Linked DNA regions of Homo sapiens: region 2 is linked to region 1. Evidence: fine-mapped expression QTL. A gene starts in region 1. The other region holds a variant in brackets. All regions are shown on one strand. Distances are from middle to middle.

Region 1 (5,377 bases):
TAGCAGAAACGATAACAACTTTGAAATCAGATGGAAAATTGGACTTAAAAATGCTTCTCATTTAGTTGTGTAATCTTGGACACAGTACTTGCTAGCTCAGAGCCTCTCCAGCTCACAGGATTGCTGTGAAGCAAGCCCCCAGCAGAGGCTGATATCCAGCGTGTGCTCCATAAATGTCGTATAACAATAGCTGCCTTGATCTGCTAGCTTTGGGGTAAATTTTACATATGTCATTTAATCAAGAAAACAACCTTCTAAGTATAATTGTTCATATTTTGCAGATGAAAAGACTGAGGGTAAGAGAAATCACGTAGCTATTAAGTGGTTTAGCTGAAATTCACCCCATTTTTATCCTCTTCCAAAGTTAGTGCTCTTAAGAATTACATAAATAATTATATATTAAGTTCATTGTATTCTCCCTATAGGCTGCTTAAGAATACAATAATATAAGATAAAAATATGTGTACATGAACTTATATTTATCAGTAAGTACTGGGGTATAAAATTGTCTTTCCCTCTTTAAGCCCTAATGTTCATTGACGCGTTAACAATGAGTCACGATTTTATTTCTTGACAGTAGATGGCGCTGGTGATTGTCAAAAGAGACAGAGTCTCCCACACCCCTCTCCTTTCCTGAGCCATTGAAAAACAAAACAAAGAGCTGGTGGAAAAAAAACGCAAAAATTTTCATCGTAATGAAGGATTGAAATTAAAAATTTGGAACCGTCATGTGATTAAGCAGAACGTGTATATGATCCACACACTTTTATTTGGAACTCTAGGGAAAACCTCCTGAGCTATTTGTAAAATTTCATTCTCAGGATTAAAACAAAATATAGTAAAATTTGATTATCCAGACAAAAGATGGATTTATATTTCTCTATTAGACAGATTTTATTTCTGCACCTTAATTTTAGCAAGGGATGAATATTAAGACAACTATGAATTTAGTTGACAAAAAACTCACATATATCTGACTTCCAGAGTCCTGAAGGTGGTATAGAGGAGTATGGTAGTCAAGATAAAAACAAAACAAATTATTATATGACCTTTGAGTATATCACTTAATGTCTCAGGACAGAAGTTTTCTCATTTGTAAAACTGAAATATTTCTTGCCTAATTCACATGGCAGTTGCAAGGATCAAATACAGTAAAGTAGTATAAACACCTTGAGAATTGTCATGTTCTTTCCAAATATGCTTTTTTTCATCTTTACCATACAATCAACCCAACCACCTATAGGTAAAATCATAACACAAGGAAAATTGGAATTCAGAATAAAATACTTGAGCATTAAATTTCCTCATTGGTCCAAAAGCACTTTAATAGGCTTTGGTGAATTAGATTCGTGCAAGAAAAGGGACTAATGTATTTTCAACCATCAAAGGAGTGTTTAGCTTAATAATCAGCTACCCAGAAAATGAAACAGAAAAACACTTGAATCCAAAGCACCGAAGTGAACTGAAGCGGCCTCCACTGTCCTCCCCTAACTGTCCGCACGGCCTGTCCTCTGTAGGAGTGTCCTTGTGTACGTGTGGAGGTTGTGGACACACATGCCTAGGGTTACAGATGCTCTACAGACTTAACTCAGTATAGTGAAGCTGCAGAGATAGTCATAGCCCTAAAGAAGCCTATCTGAGAGCTTTCCTTTGGGTTTTACAAGAGGCATAGATATTTATTCTGCTCTTCTTTTAACAAAAGACTCCCAAATATTTGCTGAAGATGTAGAGTATTGCCATTTCTGCTTCAAAAGCTCTGAGCCTCTCACGGCACCTGTTGCTGCTGCCCCAAGAGCGGAACACACCCTCCACACCAGCAGCCCCAGGACTAGATTCAGCTTCTCAGTGAACCACTTCCATGCTCCACGATGTGCTCTGGGCTTTGGGGACTTAAAACATCGCAGCCGCGGCATAACAGAGATGCGTCAGCTTCTAAAGTCGTAGTGGGCAGTTCTAGAAACCTGACCCTTTCTTCTGCTGCTACAGATTCTATTGGCTTCTGGAGATTCAGAGACGTCCTTCCTCAAGAAGGAACCTCTGCCTGGCCTTCAGCAGGGCCACTGTCATGTGCGATATTCACTTAGAGCCTTATCACATTTGTGGCTGTAGAGGTGTTTGCGTGCCTTGTTTAATTTATCCCACTAGACTGTAAGTTCAGGGCAGATGGGGGATGTCTGGTTTTTGTTTTTTTTTTTTTTGCCTAATACTGTGTCCCCATGCTGGGCACAGACCTAGCACAGAGTAGGTGCTTGGCAAAGAGCTTTTGAATGAATGAATGATTGGCTGTAGTCTTCCTGGGAAAGGGCTGGCAGGCAAGGAAGTGTTAAACCAGCCACTAACCGCCCAGGCTGACCAGCCTTCTCCCTATCTCCCAGGCCTTTCGAACGGAGCCCGGGGAGGACAGGCTGGCAGAGGAGGGAGGAGGGTTTCTAGCTGAGAGAGACTGCGGCTGTGGGCCTGCAGCCTACCCCTCTTCAAGCTCTCCGGAGCCGTTCCTGCGAAACCAGCCCCCACAAGTGAGTGTCTGCGGCCCCCTCCCTCCTCTTTCCCTTATTGCTCCCTGTGGGGATGGGGCTGACACCGAGCTTGATCCTAAGTAAAAGTCTGTTCTAACAGGAAGCAAATAATGTTCCTCCCCTGACGGAGGTGTTTCCTTCTCAAAGAAGTTACAAAGGGCTCTTTTCAGAGAGAAAGGGGCTGGGAATAGTGTGTGGCCTCACTGCCGTCTGCCTTGGGTGGAGCCAGCACGTTCTGGAATCCAGGGGCTTCCTCTTCTAAAGAGGCGCCGGGCCATGCACTGAAACGGGGTGGCCCATCCTCTGGGAGCCCCAGTCCCCTTACCTGCTTGATACAAGCATCCTCTGGAAGTGCCTAGGGTCATTGCCAAGGCCCCTGTTTTCTTTTCTTGGCTTCCAGGACGCCGTAGTCTGTGTTCTTCCTCCCGCCCTGCAGTTCCCTAGCTGGATTCTCTTCCTCGCTGTGATCTCTTCATCCCTGGTTCCCCAGCGCTCTGTCCTGAGCCCCCTTCTCGAACCACACTCTCGTCTGAGTGAGCATATTGAGCTTCATGGCTGTACATTTCCTCCCCGTGCCGAGGAATCCCACACACTTAGTTCCAGCGCCCAGCTCGCCCCCACCTCATCCAGGTCCTTACATCCCCCTGCAGACTCTGTCTCCACTCCACCTCATTGGTGTTTCCCACTCACTAGATCTAAAGCCAAACTCTTGATCCTGACTTCTCCACCCACCAGCTTGCCTTTCTCTTCATCTTCCCCATCTCAGAGAGCGGCTCGGTCCCGAACTGTCTCTTTCCTTCACACCCTTCATCTAACACACAGCAAGGCTTCTCAGCTCTACCTTCAAAATCTACTCCTCATCTTTCTTCTTCCCACCACCGCCACTCAAACGCCCTCGGCCTAGAGGGATCAGACCCATACTACCTGGCTCCTGAACCTCTGCAAGAGTCTCTGATCTTTCTGCTTCCACTCCTGTCTTGCTACAGACTATTCTTCTGACAGCAGCCGGGGTGATCTTTTCAACTACCAGACCGTGTCACCTTGCTTAAAACCAGCTGGGGCTTCCCTCACACGCAGCATGACACTCAAACTCCACACGACAATCTAACCAGCCTCACCAACTGTGGCCCTGGCTTGTCCTTCTGACTTAGCTTCTGTCTCAGCTCAGGCTACACTGGCCTTCTTGGTATTCCTCAGCCCCCCAGCTTGTCACTGCCCAGCCTTTGCACTGTGTCCTCTCTCTGGAGTTCTTTCCCTCAGGTCTTCAGGTGGCCTTGCTCTCGGGCTTTCTGGAGAGACTTAAAAGCCATATCCATGGAGAGGCTGAGTTTGGCCACCTACCTAAGGTAGCCTCTCATCACTCTCCATGCCTTCGTCTGGCTTTCCTTTTGATTGAGCACTTGTTACTACTTGTGTTCAGCTCTTAGATGAGGGCACAAGGAACTCTGGCGGGTTTAAGTAGAAGAAGGATTTATGTGTAGACTTTGACAGCTCCAGGAATGTTTGGGAAGGCTTAGTGGTTTATAGCCAAGAAGAGTGCACGCATTGCACGAATTGGTGGGATCTCTGCTGCCCCAGCTGCCACTGGTTATGTCACCAATGCTACCGTCCCAGATACTAACACTGCTGGAACCCGCTGTCACCAGCACCCTTGGAATCCCCATCTTTCTGCAGCTGCTGCCATCTCCTATGAGGGCTTTCTCAGTCTCTTTGTCCTTGAGTCATTGGTTCCTAACTCAAATTGTGGGCCAGTGTGTCTGGCTGGTGGAGCCTTGGCCACAGGCCTTGGCTCCTTCTACAAGAGAGGCTGATAAAACCACTATCAGGCATTTTCAAATTCTATGTAATGGACCATGGGCTCTGCTTATCCACCAGATTCCATGAGGTAGGGAATCTCAAACATAGGATGGAGGTTCAGATTCTGGGTAACCAAAAAACAACGATAAGCATGCCCTTGACTAGCTGGCTTTCTAGTATATATTTACGTGTTTATGTGTCTATTGCCTAGCTACTACATTAGAATGAAAGCTAGATGAGGTCAGGCACTTTGTCTTTTTCCCTCTGTATTCCGAGAGTTCAGAACAGTGGCTGCACAGAAGTGACCCTTGATAACTACTGAATGAATATCAGATACTGTATTGAAGGTGTCAGCAATTAGAAAGATTAAACAGTCTCATTGTTGCTACCATTCCTTCTTTAGGTGGCTGATGCTCCTGTCCCTCTTCTGGCCTGATTGCTCCCTCTCCTGACCCCTAAGGTAAAAGCCAGCCAACTTGGGAGATATAGTTTGCCGGTAAAAGAGACAAGCAGACAGGGTCAGGTGCTCCATGCCAGGAAAGGAAGCCAGTTAGTGACAAAGGAGAATCCCAGGGGACTTCAGGGAGGGAAGACATGGCTACCGAAGGGCACAGGGCCAGGGCATGTGCAAATTATATTGTTGAGACAGTGAGAATGCCCTACCTTGCCTGCCACTTCTTTGAGGAGAAGAGAGTAGAGTCGCAGGAATGAAGGCTCCTTTTAACCATCCTGTGCCTTCAGACTCAGGGAGTCTGATGGAGGTGGTGGGGTTGGGGAAGGGAAATGGGGGAGGGAGTACAGTGGCTGGAGAGCTGGGGTCAGTAAACAGAAGGCATGGTGGAAAAAGTTCCCATTCTACCTCCTTAAGTTTCAGAAACCTGTTGTTTTCCAAGCCCAGTGACTCCCTCTGATATGTAGCCTGCAGGGGTGGAAAGTGTCTGAAGTGTCTGAATGTGTGTGTGTGTGTGTGTGTGTGTGTGTGTGTGTGTGTGTGTGTGTCTGTAGGGTTGGGAGGAGAGCAAGTGGAAAGAATGAAAGCTTGCCAGGCTAGGTAGGGAGGAGGA
Region 2 (5,377 bases), 48 kb after region 1:
TAAAGCCATCCATGTCCAGGCTCACCCACAGAGTCCTCAGTTTTCTCAGTTTGAGGAGGGGCCTGGGTACCAATACTTTTTAAAAGCTCCCTCTGGGTGATTCTAAGTACAATCAGGGTGTCAATCACTGATGTCCATAATGAAAAGTGTCAGACTCCAAAGCAAACTCAGGAGGACTGCCTTCATGGTATGGATCCCTGGCAGATTTGAACCTTAGAGGATTAGGCTAGCAGCTTGTGGAAGCGGATGCAAATCTTCCAATCCTCTAAGGGCAGATGAGCCTCTGGACTCATGAGAACGCTGGTCTTGGTAAAAATCCCCTGCATACCACAGGCCTCCCTTGGAGAAATCACCTAAAGAAACACCAGGAAGAATTCATTCTGGCCTCAAATAGTTACATGGATGTTTGTTACAAGAAGACACATTTAACCATTGAAGTTCCTACTCATTGAGTGAACCGTGTCTCCCTCCTCTCTGGTTTCCAGAAACAAGGATTTTTTTCTAAACTCCTCTTACTTCTTGCCTCATGGCTAATGCCCACGGAGGTGGGGTGAGTGACCTGCTGGTAACCAAGGGAAATGAATCTGCACAGGAAGCCCAGGCCCTCCCTCCCTCCCTTCTCATTAGAAGCCAGCTTCCCCTGGAAAACAACCACATTCTGCTCTACTTTCTCATGTCTATGTGGCCCTCCCTGAGTGGGAAGGCTTAAGTTTTGTAAGATTCATCATAAGTGTGGTGATATTTCCTAATTCCAGGGAATGGAGCTAGTCATGCCACACATCTTTGCTGTTTTCACGAACTGAGGTAATTTTTATTTTTATTTTTATTTTTTTGAGGAACAGTCTTACTCTGTCACCCAGGCTGCAGTGTAGTGGTGTGATCACAGCTCACTGCAGCCTTGACCTCCTGGGCTTAGGTGATCCTCCCACCCTAGCCTCCCATGTAGCTGGGACTAGAGGTATGTGCCACCTCACCTCCTTTTTTTCTTTTCTTTTTCTTTTTTGGAGAGACAGATTCTTCTTATGTTGCTATTTTAAACTCCTGAACTCAAGTGATCCTCCTGCCTTGGCCTCCCAAAGTGCTGGGATTACAGGTGTGAGACACTGCACCCTGCCCAAGGTAATATTTTGACCTTCCTTTACCTTATTCTTTGTCCATCTCTTAATTAGTTTATAACTTAGACGGGAAAAAAGAGGTGTCTAAATAAATAAATAAATAAATTTATTTAAATAAATATTAAATAAATCCCATCAGTTCCCCATAGAATGCCATTTTCCCCTAGCTGTCTATTCATGTAACAAAACGAACAAGAAAACACTACAAATTCTCTCCCTATTTATACTGTCCCACCATTATGTTATAACTCTCATTATAATGTTTTAGTTTTTCCTTGAAATAATAATCATCAACCCATTTGTAAACCATATGTTTCTACCCACAAGTGACAACCAGAATTTCAGGATTAATTGCAAGAGCCATAAAGAGCTTTTTGGTCATTTCCCTAAGAGCCTCCATGAATAGTAACAAGGGCGAATAGTAACCCCCGGCTTCAGCTGTCCCCACTGCTGTGGCAGGTTATGATACTTTCTTTCCTAAAGTAAAGGCCAAGACAGATGGCTTTTCAGGACTTCCAGAGTCTGTATGACATAAGAAGCTTATTCCAGTAAAGGGAACAAGACCCTTGTCATCTGACACCAATGAGATGCTCTTCCCTTGGCTGGCAGGGATCTGGAGGAGGAGGAGCAGATAACCTTCAGCCTAAATAAGCAATACCATCATTATTCTGGAATCTCTCTGAAGTATGGTTGGTTACAGTGTGGAATTCCACAGGGCACGTGCCTGTCTTGGACTCTATCCAAGGGAGTAAGTTATCACAAGGACCTCATTATAACAGGGGCTCCAGGGACAGTGTCAGTCAGCAGGCTTCAAGGTAGCTGCTAAAATTCTGGTGCTGGTCTGTTTAATCACTGCATGCTTGTTAATACAGTCAAGCCTCAGTTACAACAGAATCAACAGCCCAGTTTGTCACTCATCCATTCCTTGTTCCGTCACCGCCTGGTTGAGTTTCTGGCTTGTTTATGGGGCAACTCTGGGTGTCGGGCAAAATGAATGCCTCTTGTTTGAAATGCCTAATCCCGAGGTTTTTCACCTATGTGTTGTTTTCTCCCACCAGCACCTCTGCTCCGTGCCATGCTCTTGGCTAATTGGAGTTGTGAAAGGCATGAGGATTCTGGTCATGGACTCAGCTCTCCCATAGGGTTCTGACACCAAAGCAATGGTCACAACAGTGAAAGGAAGAATCCATCTGGCCAGGCTCAGGTGGTTCAAGGCCTTCAGAATCTGCCTTGAGACTCTCACTGGCTTTAGACTGAAAACCATCTTGGCCCCGTCCATCCGTGTAAGCAATTTAACGACAGCTTGCAAAGCACCGAGCTTTAACAGAAAGAAGAGATGAGCACAGCGCAAGAACTTGGACTCCAGAAGAGCTGCCTAACAGATTATTTTTCTGTGGCATTTCATGAGAACAAACGAAGTAGGAATTTTCCTTTTGTTTGTCTGGCCTTTGGCATCGTTTACTTTCTTTTTATTCTTCTGAAATGTACTT[C/T]GAGCCCTGGCAGCATTTCTGTCCTAAAATCTTATTGTCAGAGGTTTATTTTTCAGCTTTTCAAATCATATCTGATAGAGTGAGTGTACTGCCTGGACTCATCACTTTACTTCAGAAGAAATACAGCTCACCCTTTAAATGACAATGGTGACTGTCCACATCTTTATGTTTTCTACACTGAAGTGGCAGGCTTCATTTAAAAATAATGTTTTCCCTCATCAAAAGAGAGCTAGGGTAGAACCGTCAACTCTGCTGTTGTCTGGGTAGTGACCTAACACCCACGTTTTGGACAATCACTCACTGTCTTATATTGGGTTTTCATTGCATGTAGGATAATTCTTTGTCAATGGTAGTTTTGTCAACCGTGATCTGAGGTAATGAGGTTTTCTACTTTTGCTTGAAATTTTGAAAATATGCAAGCTTTAAACATTTGCAAAGTTGGATTCTGTTTTCTTTAGAAAGCAATCTGATTTGCTGATATTCTCTCCATCTGTCAGGGGATGCGTGATGTGGTGTAGACTTAATGTGCTGCCTTTCTGGAACATGGACAGAGTAGCAGCACAGAAAAATGAGCATTTCAGCTCTGTGATGATTTGTGAAAAAAAATCTCAGATCATTGAGCAGGCATTTTGCTGACACCTGTGAAAAGTAACCACATGAGAGAGCATGGCGTGATGGTCGGAGGCCACGTGCTGGAGCTGGACTGCTTGAGTCAAATCCCAGCTGCTCAGCTGTAGTGAACTGAATGGTGGTCCCCAAAAGATACATGTATCTCCTAATCCCTGGAACCTGTGAATGTGACCTTATTAGGCAAAAGGGTCTTTGCAGATGTAATTACATTGAGGCTCTCAGAGATGAGAACATCCTGGATTATCAGGGTGGGTCCTATATCCAATGACAAGTGTCTCCTTATAGGAGACAGAAGAAGTTGCAGACCCGGAAGAGACTAAGTAAAGATGGAGGCAGAGACTGGAGTGAGGCTGCTGCAGGCCAAAAATGCCTGGTGCCAGCAAAAGCTGGAAGAGGCAAGGAAGGACCTTTCCCTGGGGCTTTTGGAGGGAGTGCAGCCCTGCTGATGCCTTAGTGTTGGATATCTGGGCTATGGAACTATGAGAGAGAAACTTCTGTTGTTTTAAGCCACCTAGTTTGTGGTACTCTGTTATGGCAGCCACAGGAAACTAATACACTCTTTACCACCTGAGTGACCTTGGCCAACTTACTTAACCTCCATGAATCAGTCCCCTCAAAGGACCACCCTCCCCCCAGGGTCACTGTGATGATAAAGTGCTTTAGCATAGGTGACTGGTTTAGACCAGGGCCTGGTACCTAGCACATGCTATGCCAGTGTTTCTATCATGGCAGCAGCAGATGCAGTGGAGCTTAGATTTCAACTGTGTCCATGCTGGTTAGAAAAGTCACAGTCTGGGACACAGGACACTTCTGGAAGAATCTCCCTCAGTGGATCCCAGTGTTCCAGCAATGTTTTCCAAGCAGCTGAAGAACAGGAAGCAGGAACAGGGTTCCCTACAAGAGCCATTATTCAGATGCCTCTACATCTGACTGGTTTCGGAGAAGTGTGACTTCTGGAGGTTTATGTGCTGGGACTTTAACAGCATACGTACTAAAAACCACATTTATGTTTCCTCAAATGCTGGGCTCTCTATGAGCCTTGACCTGCCTGAGAAGATTAGAGGCGGCTGCCTAATCTGATCAGTCAACTCAGTGAAACAACTGCATTGATTAAAGCCATAAGATGTTAGGATTCTCTGTTCTTGGTGGCCTAAAAGGTCCCATTCCTTTCCCAAAGTGCTTAGCTTGATCCCATCCCAGGGAACAATTTTGGGTGGAGGAGAACCTGGCCACAGATCATAAGATCATGTATGACTAAGTCTACTTGCCTTCATGGAAACATACATGGAGTTTTGGGCAATTTCTTTGAAGCCCCTCTAGAGGCTTCTAAAGATTGTTTAGTGCCATCTGGTTTTTAATCCTGGATGTCAAACTTGTTGATTTTTGCCCTGGACCATCTGTTTTTCAACTTCCCACGGAACCTTTCCTTTGGGCCAAGTAGGGAAAGAAATACTATATTTTTAATTCTTTTTGTTTTGCCTTCTCATCCCAGTCACAGCATTAGAAAGGGAAAATCGACTGTCTGACAAAGCTCTGAAAGACTGGACATGAAGTGCTGGCCTTGCTATCTGCAGGGCATCTCCCTATAGATTGGATACCTTTTCCTTCACTCTCTGATAAAAAGTGAGACAGACTGAGCATAGTCCTGTGACCATTTAATGCCTGTGCCCAGAACATGGGTCTGTACCACTTGCAGGAGTCACAGTGGGGAGGAGCAGGGACCTTGGGGTCTGCCTGCCTCTGTCTGAATTCCAGCTGAGCCCATTCCTAGGCCAGTGCCTGGGAAAGTTATCTGACCTCTGAGATCCAGTCTACTAGCCTCACAAGTGAGACTGTGACAACACTTACCTCAATGAGGCACTGGACATCATCTCATTTAATCCTCAACATGCCTCAGTGTCCAGCATTTAACAAGCTCCCATAAACATTAGTTACTCTCATTCCTTAATATGAATAGCATTTAAAATAATAAAGTGGGAGAGAGCAATGCTGCATGCCCTACAACTGGCCAGAGAGCTTGCAGCAAGGAGAATGCTTAGGTGGAACATACAGGCCTTTTCTGTGTTCATCCCATTCCAAAGGATTTGGTGTTGCCATATATGGAACATGAAGATTAGAAATGGCCATTTCCAAACTGGTGAA

Evidence for each region. PIP is the estimated chance that this variant, and not a neighbour inherited with it, causes the effect.
Region 2: its variant is fine-mapped to the expression of PIRAT1 in whole blood (TOPMed, PIP above 0.99).

What each region holds. Positions count from the first base shown.
Region 1 is chr2:37,872,882-37,878,258 of GRCh38, reverse strand. PIRAT1 (PU.1 (SPI1) induced regulator of S100A8 and S100A9 alarmin transcription 1) reads left to right here and starts at 2,396. Exons shown (of 4, transcript NR_110012.1): 1 at 2,396-2,516.
Region 2 is chr2:37,824,675-37,830,051 of GRCh38, reverse strand. PIRAT1 (PU.1 (SPI1) induced regulator of S100A8 and S100A9 alarmin transcription 1) reads left to right here. Exons shown (of 4, transcript NR_110012.1): 3 at 1,014-1,119; 4 at 2,174-3,805. Among named protein-coding and RNA genes, the nearest start is that of PIRAT1, 48 kb to the left of the region's middle. The variant C/T (reference allele first, on the strand shown) is at 2,606.